4 separate regions of the Homo sapiens genome follow, and regions 1, 2 and 3 are each reported to be linked to region 4. Evidence: microRNA targets listed by miRTarBase, many of them from high-throughput screens and not tested one by one. Region 4 holds a microRNA gene; each other region holds the end of a gene's coding sequence.

What was found. Region 4 holds the annotated microRNA hsa-miR-3065-3p (UCAGCACCAGGAUAUUGUUGGAG, at 1,257-1,279, shown strand). A microRNA usually pairs through its seed, bases 2 to 8, with sites in the 3' UTR of a target mRNA and lowers its output. Matches are read on the target gene's strand: a 7mer-m8 pairs with bases 2 to 8, a 7mer-A1 pairs with bases 2 to 7 and ends in A, and an 8mer does both.
Region 1: the mRNA of RIMS2 is a reported target of hsa-miR-3065-3p. Seed matches in the 3' UTR shown: 7mer-A1 at 2,214-2,220.
Region 2: the mRNA of RINT1 is a reported target of hsa-miR-3065-3p. The part of its 3' UTR that is shown has no 7-base or 8-base seed match.
Region 3: miRTarBase lists RETSAT as a target of hsa-miR-3065-3p. The part of its 3' UTR that is shown has no 7-base or 8-base seed match.

Annotation. Positions count from the first base shown.
Region 1 is chr8:104,251,598-104,254,597 of GRCh38, forward strand. It overlaps RIMS2 (regulating synaptic membrane exocytosis 2), which reads left to right. Exons shown (of 30, transcript NM_001348484.3): 30 at 5-2,833. The coding sequence ends at 223. Among named protein-coding and RNA genes, the nearest start is that of DCSTAMP, 87 kb to the right of the region's middle.
Region 2 is chr7:105,566,686-105,570,408 of GRCh38, reverse strand. RINT1 (RAD50 interactor 1) reads right to left here. Exons shown (of 15, transcript NM_021930.6): 15 at 2,732-3,290. The coding sequence ends at 3,098. EFCAB10 (EF-hand calcium binding domain 10) reads left to right here. Exons shown (of 5, transcript NM_001355526.2): 2 at 838-1,002; 3 at 1,119-1,206; 4 at 2,919-2,942. Among named protein-coding and RNA genes, the nearest start is that of EFCAB10-AS1, 2.5 kb to the left of the region's middle.
Region 3 is chr2:85,340,110-85,343,728 of GRCh38, reverse strand. It overlaps RETSAT (retinol saturase), which reads left to right. Exons shown (of 11, transcript NM_017750.4): 10 at 1-90; 11 at 348-1,774. The coding sequence ends at 487. It also overlaps the pseudogene PEBP1P2. Among named protein-coding and RNA genes, the nearest start is that of RETSAT, 13 kb to the left of the region's middle.
Region 4 is chr17:81,124,670-81,128,234 of GRCh38, forward strand. MIR3065 (microRNA 3065) reads left to right here and starts at 1,208; the gene lies at 1,208-1,286. It overlaps AATK (apoptosis associated tyrosine kinase), which reads right to left. Exons shown (of 14, transcript NM_001080395.3): 5 at 3,123-3,241; 6 at 2,914-3,001; 7 at 1,758-1,891; 8 at 261-345; 9 at 58-179. It overlaps MIR657 (microRNA 657), which reads right to left and starts at 704; the gene lies at 607-704. MIR338 (microRNA 338) reads right to left here and starts at 1,280; the gene lies at 1,214-1,280.

The DNA of each region.
Region 1 (3,000 bases), not on the chromosome of region 4:
ACAGATCATCGTCTGGGGAGATTATGGCCGCATGGATCACAAATCTTTTATGGGAGTGGCCCAGATACTTTTAGATGAACTAGAGCTATCCAATATGGTGATCGGATGGTTCAAACTTTTCCCACCTTCCTCCCTAGTAGATCCAACCTTGGCCCCTCTGACAAGAAGAGCTTCCCAATCATCTCTGGAAAGTTCAACTGGACCTTCTTACTCTCGTTCATAGCAGCTGTAAAAAAATTGTTGTCACAGCAACCAGCGTTACAAAAAAAAAAAAAAAAATCACAGGTTGCAAACCCTGGTAACACTGCATGCTTAATGTTGTGTCTTCTGAGCCTGTTTCTAGGGATACAAAGCAATCCTGTGTTCTCAGAGGAAGTTGCACACATTGTGCCCTAAAGAAGGCCCTCAGGTGAAAGAGCAGAGCTGTGAAGAACTATCAGATTTGGAATTCAATGACACTCGAGTTCTGGTCCAATCTGAAGCCATGGATTAATCTCAAAGAATCAGTCAGTTTCATGCAACAGAAGCCCTTTTCAATGGCACCTTTATATTTTTATCATTCCTTTTTCTTCATTTATCTAACCCCAAAGCCCTGATATGCCACAGAAATGGAGCTATACAGCCATGAAGCGGTGTTACAGGTGAGGAGTGTAATCCTAGGAAGCATCAGGTGAAAAGCAGGAGACCAAAGAAGTGGTCAGGAACAATCATCAGCCCTCCTCTGGGCGGGAATCAGAGCAGTCAGTCCAGCAGGAAGAGTGGCAGACTTTGTAGCTCCATGGGCACGTCAATTACTAATGCTAAGATGTGTTGGACTCTGAAAAACAAAATTCTGTGGCTACACTGTACTGAATGAAATTAAAGAAACTTTTTTTGCATGGACACAGATTAGCTGAATACTTAAATTATTTTCTTGGGGCTGCAACTTGCAAAAAAAAAAAAAAGAATAAAAATCAGCCATTTTCAACAATTTATATTATTTTTAAAAATAAATTTCACTAGTGCATGGTTTTAAAAAGGAGAGAGAATGCAACAGGGTGATACAAAGATACACCATGTTTATTCTTTAATCATAGTCTGTGTTTTGGCAGACATTACAAATGGAAATACTTTCTAGAAGATACTTAAAATTCTCTTTATGTGACAAATAAGTATAATATATTCAATTTATTTCCATGTTAAATATACAAATCTTATGAAGTTCAATATGTGCAAATTTTTCACATCTTTCTCCTTCTCTCACTTTACCTCTTCTCCCTCTTTTAAACTTTTCTTTCTCCCTGCCAGAGTGAACCTTATACTAAAAAATTACAAGTTTTGATCTGATCCTCTCTCATACCCCATGTTTGATTCAGAGCTGTAGATGCCTCTGAATTTGCGAATTTCTCAAGGGAAAATTAACTTTAAGAGCTTTCTTTATTTCAAGCATGTTGAAAAGGATTTTGCAACATGACTTGGGAGTACATTAAAGTAAGTCAGCATGTATTTGACGAAGAAGATATTTGAACTTTTGCAGTTTATTGTACAGTGCATGGTAATTTTTTCACCTTTAAAATTCAGTTTACAGGAAAATTCTAAAATCATGTTGCCATTGTGATGTCCAATAAATTTGTTTTTAGCACCAGCATTATTCATACAGGGGTTAAAGTATTATTTGTAGAAGGTCTTAGGTTTTGTTTGTTTTTTAATCATTTAAAGCAATTTCTTTAGCCAGTTTCCATTTACTATGTGAATAGAAGCACTGCTAAAAATTGGGAACCCTGAAACACAGGGCTGTTTATTAATTCATTTTTCTGTAGTAAAATTCAATTTTTCACAAATTATATTTCTAAAGAAATATAGTAAACATAAATTTGCAACAATTTTAAAGCTCCAGTTTTTAGGTGACTCAAAGAAAGTCATTATGCCTATTAATAGTTATTTGATGCCATCACCAAAAGTCTATGTGAAAATCTCCTAAAGTCAAAACCCCTGCCTTTGGTTTTACAGACGGTTATTACCATTGGGTGGAGCTGCAAGGTCAAATTTCTCCTAAGTTCCCCTATTTAGAGGAAAAGTCACTGGTTATTGTAATAAACCACCCATGGTTCTTTATGTACATTTTGATAACACATTATTATAGCTTGATTTTAATTTTTTGCATTAATTTTTGAAATCCACATACATCTCATTTGTTTAAATTAAGGCCATGCACAAATATTTTTTTTAGTTCAGTGCTGACCATTAAAAACTATCATGCTTGATACGGTGCAAAAGTTAAAATGAGTATCACTAAAAATGCCTTCTTTTTATGTGGTGCAATATGAAATACACCAAGACTGTGTCTTGACATTCTGATGGACCCAGGTAAAGTTGTTAAAAGAACGAATAAAACTTTATTAAAATAATTTAGACACCTGTGTACCAGCAACAATTGATTTAATAGACCTATAGTGTCTATACTATCCCTTAGAATAAAGGTTTATGATTTTCCTGATACTAAGATGCAGTCACATAATCTTTTGTGCATATTCCTATACAAATTATTTCTAATTTTAATAAGAAGGACGTGACTACGGAATATTTGTACATACTTGTCATTATGCAGTATTTATTTAAAAGTTGGTGTTTTTTTTTAATTTTCACATCTGCACCTCGACTTGTGGTTTAGTCATGTAACTAGCACTATGCCAGTGACCGTTGTTGCCCTGTACATAGTATGTTTGAAAAGTAAAGGGAATTCCAGTTGGGAAAAAAGGGCAGATTAGTCCTGTAATGAACACCAACTAATGTAAATCAAATTCATTCTGGTGATGGTATTTAACACTTTAAATAAAACATTTTCTTTACAGGCGTCTGCAGTGCTTTCTCTGACTTTTCTCCCCACACAGCCCTGAGCCTGCTGCAGCTCATTCCCTGAACTCATGTGTCATTTAAAGAATGAAATCACCGTCTCCTACTTCTCGATAACATAAGTGGACTGCTGGTCTTAGCAGCGGCCCTCAGTAGAGCATTTCTTTA
Region 2 (3,723 bases), not on the chromosome of region 4:
AACTACAGAATATTTATCCAAATTGCTTTGTTAGAAATGAGTACATGTGCTTCCTGGAGGACCATATTTATCAGTCTTTGTTTTTATTATATTTATATATATGTGTGTGTGTATGTGTATATGTATGTGTGTGTGTGTGTATATATATATATATATATATATATATATTTTTTTTTTTTTTTTTTTTTTTTTTTTTTGAGAGAGTCTTGCTCTGTTGCCCAGGCTGGAGTGCAGTGGCGTGATCTTGGCTCACTGCAACCTCTGCCTCCCGGGTTCAAGCGATTCTCCTGCCTCAGCCTCCCGAGTAGCTGGGATTACAGGCATGCACCACCACGCCTGGCTAACTTTACTAGAGATGGGATTTCTCCATGTTGGTCAGGCTGGTCTCAAACTCCCAACCTCAGGTGATCTGCCCTCCTCGGCCTCCCAAAGTGCTGAGATTACAGGCATGAACCACCATGCCCAGCCTATTATTTATATCTTATCAATTATTTAGGTTGCCAACTTCTTCCCTGTATTATGCTGTTCCCTCTATGTTTTTGGTTTTCAACCCTGTCTGCAACTTATAGTCACTTGGGGAGTTTTTCTAAAAAATGCCCAGGTCCAGTCTCTATAGTTTTCTATTCTATCATCTGAGATAGGGCATTTGTATATGTAATTATTTAAGTGTTCAATGTCTTACCTTCTTGCTGGACTGTTTATGAAAACTAAGGCCTGTGTCCCCAGCGCCTAGTACAGTGCCTTTGCTATAGCTGTTTAATAATTGTTAAATGACTACTTCTATTTGCGACATATTTTAATTTCGTATCAGAAAGAGCTGGAACTATTCTTTTGCAGAAAAACCAAAAGAATATTTAATATCTCTATTGGAACGACTGAGAATTGCAAAAGTAACAGGCGTGGCGTTTCCTTTCTTTATGGATAACTCTAACATTGTGGCTATGTTTGAGATGATGGACTCCTCAGGCAGAGGCACCATATCATTTGTGCAGTATAAAGAAGGTCAGTACATTCTACAAATTGAGGTAATAGTTTGTGGTCATTCCACAGTTTTTTCTAGCAGAAAATACTTCTCACTTTGTAAAATTCTCACTTCATTTCTTCTCATTATTTTACAGCCCTAAAAACCCTGGGTCTATGCACTGAAGATGAAGATTTACAAGATGATGGACATAAAATAACTTTGGATAAATTCAAGGAGGAAGTGTAAGTTTATTTTTAAGTGACAAATATTTTAATAAGGTGGCATGATTTTGAAGCACAATTAATACCTTTAAAACAGGTTCCTATCTTTTGAAAGAAATATTTTGTTCCCTTGAAACTTTCAGCTGACTGGAAAGTGAGGACAGGTAAGGCTGACGGTAAAGTCCCTAAACTTGGGAATAGGAAGGGAAAATGCTGGGGTTAGAGAGGAAGTTCCAGAGGCAGCTCCATTCTTTTTTTTTTTTTTTTTTTCCCTGAGATGGAGTCTTGCTCTGTTGCCCAGGCTGGAGTGCAGTGGCAATATGTCGGCTCACTGCAACCTCCACCTCCCGGGTTCAAGCGATTCTCCTGCCTCAGCTTCCCAGTAGCTGGGCTTACAGATGCGCATCACCACATCCAGATAATTTTTTTGTATTTTTAGTAGAGTCAGGGTTTCATCATGTTGGCCAGGCTGGTCTCAAACTCCTGATCTCAAGTGATCCACTGCCTCGGCCTCTCAAAGTGCTGGGATTACAGGCATGTAATGGGCTGTGCCCAGCCAGCTCCATTCTAAATAGGAAGCCCCAGCAATTCTCAAAGGATGAGGTGAAGAAGCACCAATATGCTAGGACAACTAACAAACAGAAACATTTTGAGCTCAACACACTAGCTGGAAACTCTCTCTATAAAATACATACTAATAGAATCTATCTCAAAATATTTCCTCAAAATTATCACAAAGTAAATGTTTATCAGAAGCATAGGCTGCATGTTAGTCTGATAATTTTAGATTTTGAGATATTACAGGATTAAAAGTACTAACCCACTGCTAAGTCAGAGAAAAACCATTGGAATAAAATTTAATAGTTGTGGAAAGTTTCCAGGGAATCTAGCTCAATTTTTTAAAGAGTTTTACTCTGAGATTTTATTAGTCAAGTAACTATTATTGAATATACCCCAAGGACAAGGAAAAGTTACAAGAAAAAATAAACTTTTGAGACTTTTGTCTCATAAGTTACATAAATAATAAAAATGTTTAATTACATTCCCTACCACATGGGAATGTTTGAGTCAGAGTGCCATGGCCTGAAATGTTTCATCCAGAAAGAAAGGGTTGCCCACTGTCACACAGAATGAAACTAGGAAGCATTTAAAATAGAAGGGCATTTGTGAGAAATGAAGAACAATCCTATCTTATTCACCATCTCACAATGTGTTTTGTTTTGTTCTTTAGAGACAGGGTCTTGTTCGCTTGCCCAGGCTGCTGTGCCGTGTCACAATCAGAGCTCACTGTAGTCTTGACCTCCTGGGCTCAAGCTAGCCTCCCACCTCAGCCTCCCAAGTAGCTAGAACTACAGGCATGCATCAGGGTCTTGACATGTTGGCCAGGATGTTTTCGCACTCCTGCCTCAAGCAATCCTCCTACCTCAGCCTCCCAAAGTGCTGGGATTACAGGCATGAGACACTGTGCCCTGCCAGTTTCCTCATGGAAATACAGTTAATTCCCAAACTAGATACAGGTGCCTCAATTACAAATATGCATTCAAAGGGAGTTTTAAAAAAATTTATTGGCTATGTTTGATTATCCACAACAGAATTTCCCTTAATTAGCACAGGAAATTGAAAGTTGGTTATAATTTAATATCTCTGCTCGTCTTCAACAGACATACTCAGCATTTATACTTGTAAATAGAATTGAGTTTTCATTGTTTCGTTTTCTGTTTTTGTTTCCTTAGGAACAAGAGGATGAAGGAAATATGGTCAGCATTTTAATAACACCATAAATCCAAGATAATAAGTAATTCTATAAAGTTTTCCAGTTTCATTAATTCAGAATTTCATCATATAACTTGAAATCCAATTGGCTTCCTCTTTCTTAGAAACAAAAACCAAAGAAACCTTTTTCTGAAAGACATTATTTTCCAGTATTAGGCCAATTTGTCCTCAAATTAAGTAGAATCTCAACATCTTGTTGAGCCAGTTTGTAAATTCCAACTTCATTTAATGCTGCTGTGGCAGGAAGCTGCCCTGAAGCTGACTGCAGTACATCTTTCAGCAGTAGTGCAGAACCGACGTTCAAATTCAAAACAATACAGGCTTCTTTTATACTGTTTAGGGAAAACAAAGGAGGGAAATGAGATCTCCATTATCTGCATCAATTATATTACAATTTTGAGAATCCTAAACAGCTTCTCTGCACTGCTGGTCCACATGTTCTCTATAAAAATATTTATGGATTTATTATTTGGTTCTTTTAACATGGTAAGACTACACAGGTGCAGAGTTGCTATTTCTTTAGATTACTATAAGGTAATACGATCCCTATTTCAATATGTATCCGTTATTTCCCTAAATACAATACTTAATATTAACACTATATTAAATATAGCTATAACTTTAGGTAGATTAGAACATGGGAAAAGACAAAAATAAGAGATAAATGAAAGCAGCAGAAAGAACATTAAAATAAATTTTAAAAACAGTCCTATGAAACGTGTAAACATAAGCTTTCATTTTATAAGTCTAAAAGGAATGCTTTAT
Region 3 (3,619 bases), not on the chromosome of region 4:
ACGGGGCTGACCATGACCTGGGCCGCCTGCACCCTTGTGTGATGGCCTCCTTGAGGGCCCAGAGCCCCATCCCCAACCTCTATCTGACAGGTATACTCACTGCCCCATGTTGTCAGGACCTGAGACCCTGGGCCCCTGTCGCCCAACGTCCTCTGTTCCTGCCCTCAGGCCCTGCTGTCCCCTGCAGCCTCCCATCCCCTGAGCAGGGCTGCCTGGGCAGGCTGTGGCCCCTGTCTGATTGGAGCCAGCTCTGGGTGGCCCTCATGTGGAGGGAAGAGCACCAAGGCCCCACCCTCCCCTGGGCCTGCCTGGGTGCACGCTCAGGGGCCTCTGCTCTTGCCTCCTAGGCCAGGATATCTTCACCTGTGGACTGGTCGGGGCCCTGCAAGGTGCCCTGCTGTGCAGCAGCGCCATCCTGAAGCGGAACTTGTACTCAGACCTTAAGAATCTTGATTCTAGGATCCGGGCACAGAAGAAAAAGAATTAGTTCCATCAGGGAGGAGTCAGAGGAATTTGCCCAATGGCTGGGGCATCTCCCTTGACTTACCCATAATGTCTTTCTGCATTAGTTCCTTGCACGTATAAAGCACTCTAATTTGGTTCTGATGCCTGAAGAGAGGCCTAGTTTAAATCACAATTCCGAATCTGGGGCAATGGAATCACTGCTTCCAGCTGGGGCAGGTGAGATCTTTACGCCTTTTATAACATGCCATCCCTACTAATAGGATATTGACTTGGATAGCTTGATGTCTCATGACGAGCGGCGCTCTGCATCCCTCACCCATGCCTCCTAACTCAGTGATCAAAGCGAATATTCCATCTGTGGATAGAACCCCTGGCAGTGTTGTCAGCTCAACCTGGTGGGTTCAGTTCTGTCCTGAGGCTTCTGCTCTCATTCATTTAGTGCTACGCTGCACAGTTCTACACTGTCAAGGGAAAAGGGAGACTAATGAGGCTTAACTCAAAACCTGGGCGTGGTTTTGGTTGCCATTCCATAGGTTTGGAGAGCTCTAGATCTCTTTTGTGCTGGGTTCAGTGGCTCTTCAGGGGACAGGAAATGCCTGTGTCTGGCCAGTGTGGTTCTGGAGCTTTGGGGTAACAGCAGGATCCATCAGTTAGTAGGGTGCATGTCAGATGATCATATCCAATTCATATGGAAGTCCCGGGTCTGTCTTCCTTATCATCGGGGTGGCAGCTGGTTCTCAATGTGCCAGCAGGGACTCAGTACCTGAGCCTCAATCAAGCCTTATCCACCAAATACACAGGGAAGGGTGATGCAGGGAAGGGTGACATCAGGAGTCAGGGCATGGACTGGTAAGATGAATACTTTGCTGGGCTGAAGCAGGCTGCAGGGCATTCCAGCCAAGGGCACAGCAGGGGACAGTGCAGGGAGGTGTGGGGTAAGGGAGGGAAGTCACATCAGAAAAGGGAAAGCCACGGAATGTGTGTGAAGCCCAGAAATGGCATTTGCAGTTAATTAGCACATGTGAGGGTTAGACAGGTAGGTGAATGCAAGCTCAAGGTTTGGAAAAATGACTTTTCAGTTATGTCTTTGGTATCAGACATACGAAAGGTCTCTTTGTAGTTCGTGTTAATGTAACATTAATAAATTTATTGATTCCATTGCTTTAACATTTGAAATTTATTTTGGTTTTTTGTTCAAGAAAACAAAACTATTATTGTGATGGCATTTGCAGAAGCTCAGTAAAACACTATATACTGAATAACACCAAAATAAGCTTTAAAAAAATAAAATTAAGTAATTATAAAGTTACAAAAAGTGGGGTCTGCGCCTTCCCAGGCCAGTGTGCTGAGCTCTCCATGTCGCTGTTGCCGCCCGCACCTGGCCTACCGCGGCACTCCCGGCTGCATGCTCTGCTTGGCCTTGCCATGCCGGTGGACCTCAGCAAGTGGTCCGGGCCCTTGAGCCTGCGAGAAATGGACGAGCGGTCACAGCACCTGCTGCATGTCACCTACGCCCGGGCGGTGGTGGACGAGCTGGGCAAAGTGCTGACGCCCACCCAGGTTAAGAATAGACCCACCAGCATTTAGTGGGATGGTCTTGATTCAGGGAAGCTCTACACCTTGGTCCTGACAGACCCTGATGCTCCCAGCAGGAAGGATCCCAAATACAGAGAATGGCATCATTTCCTGGTGGTCAACATGAAGGGCAATGACATCAGCAGTGACACACTCCTCTCCGATTATGTGGGCTCGGGGCCTCCCAAGGGCACAGGTCTCCACCGCTATGTCTGGCTGGTTTATGAGCAGGACAGGCCACTAAAGTGTGACGAGCCCATCCTCAGCAACCGATCTGGAGACCACCGTGGCAAATTTGAGGTGGTGTCCTTCCGTAAAAAGTACGAGCTCGGGGCCCCGGTGGCTGGCACGTGTTACCAGGCTGAGTGGGACGACTATGTGCCCAAACTGTACGAGCAACTCTCTGGGAACTAGTGGGTTAGCTTGGGGACCTGAACTGTTCTGGAGGCCCCAAGCCATGTTCCCCAGTTCAGTGTTGCATGTATAATAGGTTTCTCCTCTTCCTGCCCCCCTTGGCACAGGTGAGACCTGACCAGTCAGATGGTGGTTGAGGGTGACTTTTCCTGCTGCCTGGCCTTTATAATTTTACTCACTCACTCTGATTTATGTTTTGATCAAATTTGAACTTCATTTTGGGGGATATTTTGGTACTGTGATGGGGTCATCAAATTGTTAATCTGAAAATAGCAACCCAGAATGTAAAAAAGAAAAAACTAGGGGGAAAAAACCAGGTCTACAGTGATAGAGCAAAGCATCAAAGAATCTTTAAGGAAGGTTTTAAAAAAAAAAAGATTGGTTGCCTCTGCCTTTGTGATCCTGAGTCCAGAATGGTACACAATGTGTTTTTATGGTGATGTCACTCACCTAGACAACCAGAGGCTGGCATTGAGGCTAACCCCCAACACGGTGCATCTCAGATGCCTCAATAGGCATCAGTATGTCGCTCTGGTCCCTTTAAAGAGCAATCCTGGAAGAAGCAGGAGGGAGAGTGGCGCTGCTGTTGTTGGGACATGGCCATCTAGACCGGCAGCAGCGCTCGCTGACAGCTTGGGAGGAAACCTTAGATCGGTGTTTGTTAAACTGATCATTCTTCACGGGAGTAAGAAAAGCTGGTCTGGAGTTGCTGAACATTGCATTAATTGTGCTGTTTGCTTATAGTTGAATAAAAATAGAAACCTGAATGAAAAAAAAAGTTACAAAAAGTGGCCATCTACCGACTGGGCAAACAAAAAAGAACAGTTTCAACACTCAGTCATTTATTGCACATGGAGTCTGATGAATTAAAAGAATACCAATCAGAGTGTCCGGGGCTGGCGTGTTGGCAGTTTGAAGTACCATACAGCTCAGGGCTGGGTGCTTTGGCTCATGCCTGTAATCCCAGCACTCTGGGAGGCCAAGGCAGGTAGATTGCTTGAGCTCAGGAGTTCAAGACCAGTCTGAGCAACATGGCAAGACCCTGTCTCTATAGAAAGTCCCCACCCCACCCCCAGAAAAATTAGCTGGGCATGGTGGTGTGCCCCTGTAGTCCCAGCTATTCAGGAGGCTGAGGTGGGAGGATCACTTGAGCCCGGGAGGTGGA
Region 4 (3,565 bases):
GGTGGGCAGGTGGCACTCGGCCTCGGCCCCTCACGGTGCCACCAGGGCCGCACTCACCACACATTCCCGCTCTTGGTCTGGTCCACGACGAGCAGGTTGCTATGCACCTCGTCCACCAGCTCTGGCGCGATCCAGCGCAGAGGCACCCACAGCTGGTCGGCAGTCACGAAGTAGTCCTCCTGTTGGCACAGGGACGGGTCACCCCTGCCGGCGCAGGCCCTGCCCCTCATGCCCAGCCCAGCCCACCCCACCCCACTCACTCTGTACTTGCAGTGAGCCAGGCCATAGTCACCAATCTTCACCGTCAGGTCAGCCGTGAGCAGGCAGTTCCGCAGGGCCAGGTCGCTGCAGGCAGGGGCAGGGGCAGGGGCAGGGTGAGCAGGGTGAGCAGGGTGTGCCGGGTGGGGGCAGGGGGAGGGTCAGTGGGGTGTGCCGGGCGGGGGCATCCAGCACAGGGTCCTTTGCCAACACTTGGATGGCTCACAGTCCAGGCTGGAAGGGGCGTTGGAGACACTGCCACCCCCCATCCCTGCCCAGGGCCCTACTCTGTGCCCAACCCTGAGACCTGGGGAGGGACTGTGTGCGTGGGCCTCAAATGTTACAGTGCAGAGGAGAATGGGGCCTAGAGAGGGTGAGAACCTGCCGGAACCCACCCGGACCGGTCCACGCTTCTCCAGGACCCTCTCCTCCTAGCTCTACTACACTATCACTCTCGGCTCCCCAGGAGGTGGGAATTGATGGGGAAACTGAGGCCTGGAGTGTCCCAGGGGTCCTGCCGGCTGCCGGAGTCCAGTTTTAGGGTCCAGCCCTGCCATGCCCACTCAGAGCTGGAGCTCACTCTCACTTGAGCCACCACTGGCCCCAGGGTTGGGTAGGGTCTGGAAAGAATGCAGGTTACGCCTGGCACTACCTCCAACCCAGCCTGCCTTGGCTGCTGGCTTTGAACCCTGCCTGGCTGGTCACGTGGGTGTGAGGAGGCACAGGGTACTGGGTAGATATTACCACAGCTGCCGTATTACTTCTGTGCTCAGGACTCAGGGTGGGGACAGAGGCCAACCCAGCCTGTCCCTCCCCACATAAAACCCATGTCTGCGTGCCAGGGGATCGCTACAGGGCCATGTGTCCTGGGCCTAGGGGGTGGAGTGGGGTGGGTTGGGGTTGGGGGCAGGGCAGCTGGGGCCCGGCAGGCAGGTCGGGAGGCTGGCAGCTGCCCTCTTCAACAAAATCACTGATGCTGGAGTCGCCTGAGTCATCACTCAGCACCAGGATATTGTTGGAGAGGACAGCCGTGCGGCGTCTGGGGCTGACGGGGCCACGTGTCCTTCGCCACTTCTTCCAGCATGTCCCCCCGGGGTCCCCAGGGGCTGGGCATCCTGGCCCAAGCAGGACAGAACCCTCCCTCCAGGGTCCTTCGAAGCAGGGTCTGTCTCCCTCAAGCCCCAAAGCGAGGGCTTAGCAGAGTGTGGGGTTGGCGCGGGGCTGCAGGGTGCTGGCTGACTGCCTCGGGGACAGAGAACAGGCCAGCTTGACAGTACGCATCTCTTCGTCTAAACCTGCAAAGTGGGTGTCAAACCATTGTCTTCCCAATTTTTCAAAAACGTCATAAAATCCCTCTGCATAGTGGTTGTCTGATGCTGCATGAGATGAACCTGGCCGGTCCTCGCAAGCCCCCTGAGGCAGGACCCGCCCTATGCCCTTCCTTCAGGGGAGGGGCCTGGCCTAGGGCTTCCCGGCCGCTGGCCCGCGCCCGCCCTCACCTGTGCACGAAATTGTTGCGATGAAGGTGCAGGACGCCACAGGCCACCTCACAGGCCATGCGCTGCAGGGTCCGGGGGTCGGGAGCCATGGACTCCGCCACCCGGCAGCTCCGCAGGTAGCCCTTGAGGTCCCCCTGCAGAAAGGGGGTGTGGCGCAGTCACCAGCAGGCTGGGGGCTGGCCACCCTGGGAGGTCCCCACCTACCTCCCCAACTCCTCCACCCCTACCCACAGCTGAGGGACAGCAGCTGCCCAGAGCAGCCTCGTGCCCTGCACAGTGGCCAGCACCCAGCAGTTCCTGGAGGGGGGCCGTGTCCCCCAGGGCTGGGCTGGACTGAAGGCTTCCTCTCCACTGCCCCTCAGCCAGCCCCGGGCAGCAGGAGTCCCTTGGCCTGTGGTAGAGAGAGAAACACAGGGCCCAAGTGGATCTGCTTGATGGAGTCTGGGGCTGGTGGTCGAGGGTTGGCCGGCAGCCCCTGACCTGCCGAAAGCCCAGCCCCGGGACGGTCAACGTCAGGAGTCCAGACGCCAGTGTGTGAGGGCCCCTGTCCCGAGGGAAGCCAGCAGGGGATCCAGCCCAGCCACAGACAGCCTCGGCTCAGTGCAGGAGCTGCATATGTGGAAGGGGGTGGGGGGCAGGTCTCGGGGGAGGGGGAGACGGGTCCCCGGGGCAGGGGGGCGTTGATGGGCAGGTCTCAGGGGGAGGGGGGGACAGGTCCCCGGGGCGGGGGGCGTTGATGGGCAGGCCCAGAACTCCAGGCAGCCTGGGGAAGTGGCCAGGCCCAGCCCCCCATGGCAAAAGCAAGCCTGAGTGAGGCCGTGGAGCCCAAGTGGGCCAGTGCCCCCCCCCAGTTGGCCCAGGATGCCTCCTCCTGAACCACAGGGCACACAAGCAGGTGACCAAGCAGCTGGCAGCTCCCCAGGGGTGCAGGGAGCCCCAGCCCAGGCCTGTTCTGTGCCCAGCCCCCACAGTCCCTCCCTGGTGAGGCTAGGTCTCCCCATCGCCTCCTCTGGAAGGTGGTGGGGGCAGGGTCCCTGGGTCTTGGCTTTAGGGAGGATGTGAGGCCCCCAAGGAGGGGGTGGCACCAGACACTGGCAGGGCAAGGGAGGGCCCCGGCTCAGCAAAGACCCCAGCATCCCCCCGGGCAGCAGCTCACCAGTGGGCAGAACTCCATCACCAGCAGGTAGGGCGTCACCTCGGCGCACTGGGCCAGGCACTGGAGCAGGTTGCTGTGCTTCAGGGCCCTGCGGGAGTGGACAGGCGGCCCCTGACTTGGGAGGAGGTGGGGAGGGGGAGTCGGGCCGAGCAGGGGAGGGAGAGGAGGGGGCCGCACAGCACAGGCCTTTGTGCCCGGTGGCCTCCCACCTGTAGGGCTGCACCTCCTCCAGGAACTGCATCTGCTCCTGCACGCTGGCACTAGCCTGCAGCTCCTTCACCACCACCTGGGCACTGCTGATGCCAGAGTTCACCTCCCCCAGGAACACCTGTGGGACAGACAGCATCACCCACGGCTGCTCCGCCTCCACCGGCCCCGGCTTCCAGGCCTTACTCTTCTCCCACCCGCCCCACGCCGGCCCCCAGGACAGGACACTTCTCCTCCTGTGCCCCGTCCACTCATTGCAGCGTGAGGTATGGCTTCCGGATCCCTCCCGGCAACCCTCTGGCTGTAATATTCTGAGTCTTTCGTGTTACTCTCCCCACAAGGTCCCCCGCTGCCCTCTCTCTCTCTCTCTCTGGGGGTTTGAAGTGAGGAAGAGGGACCCAGGTGTCTCGTTTAGGCCAAGGTCAGGGGAAGGCCATGAGCAAGA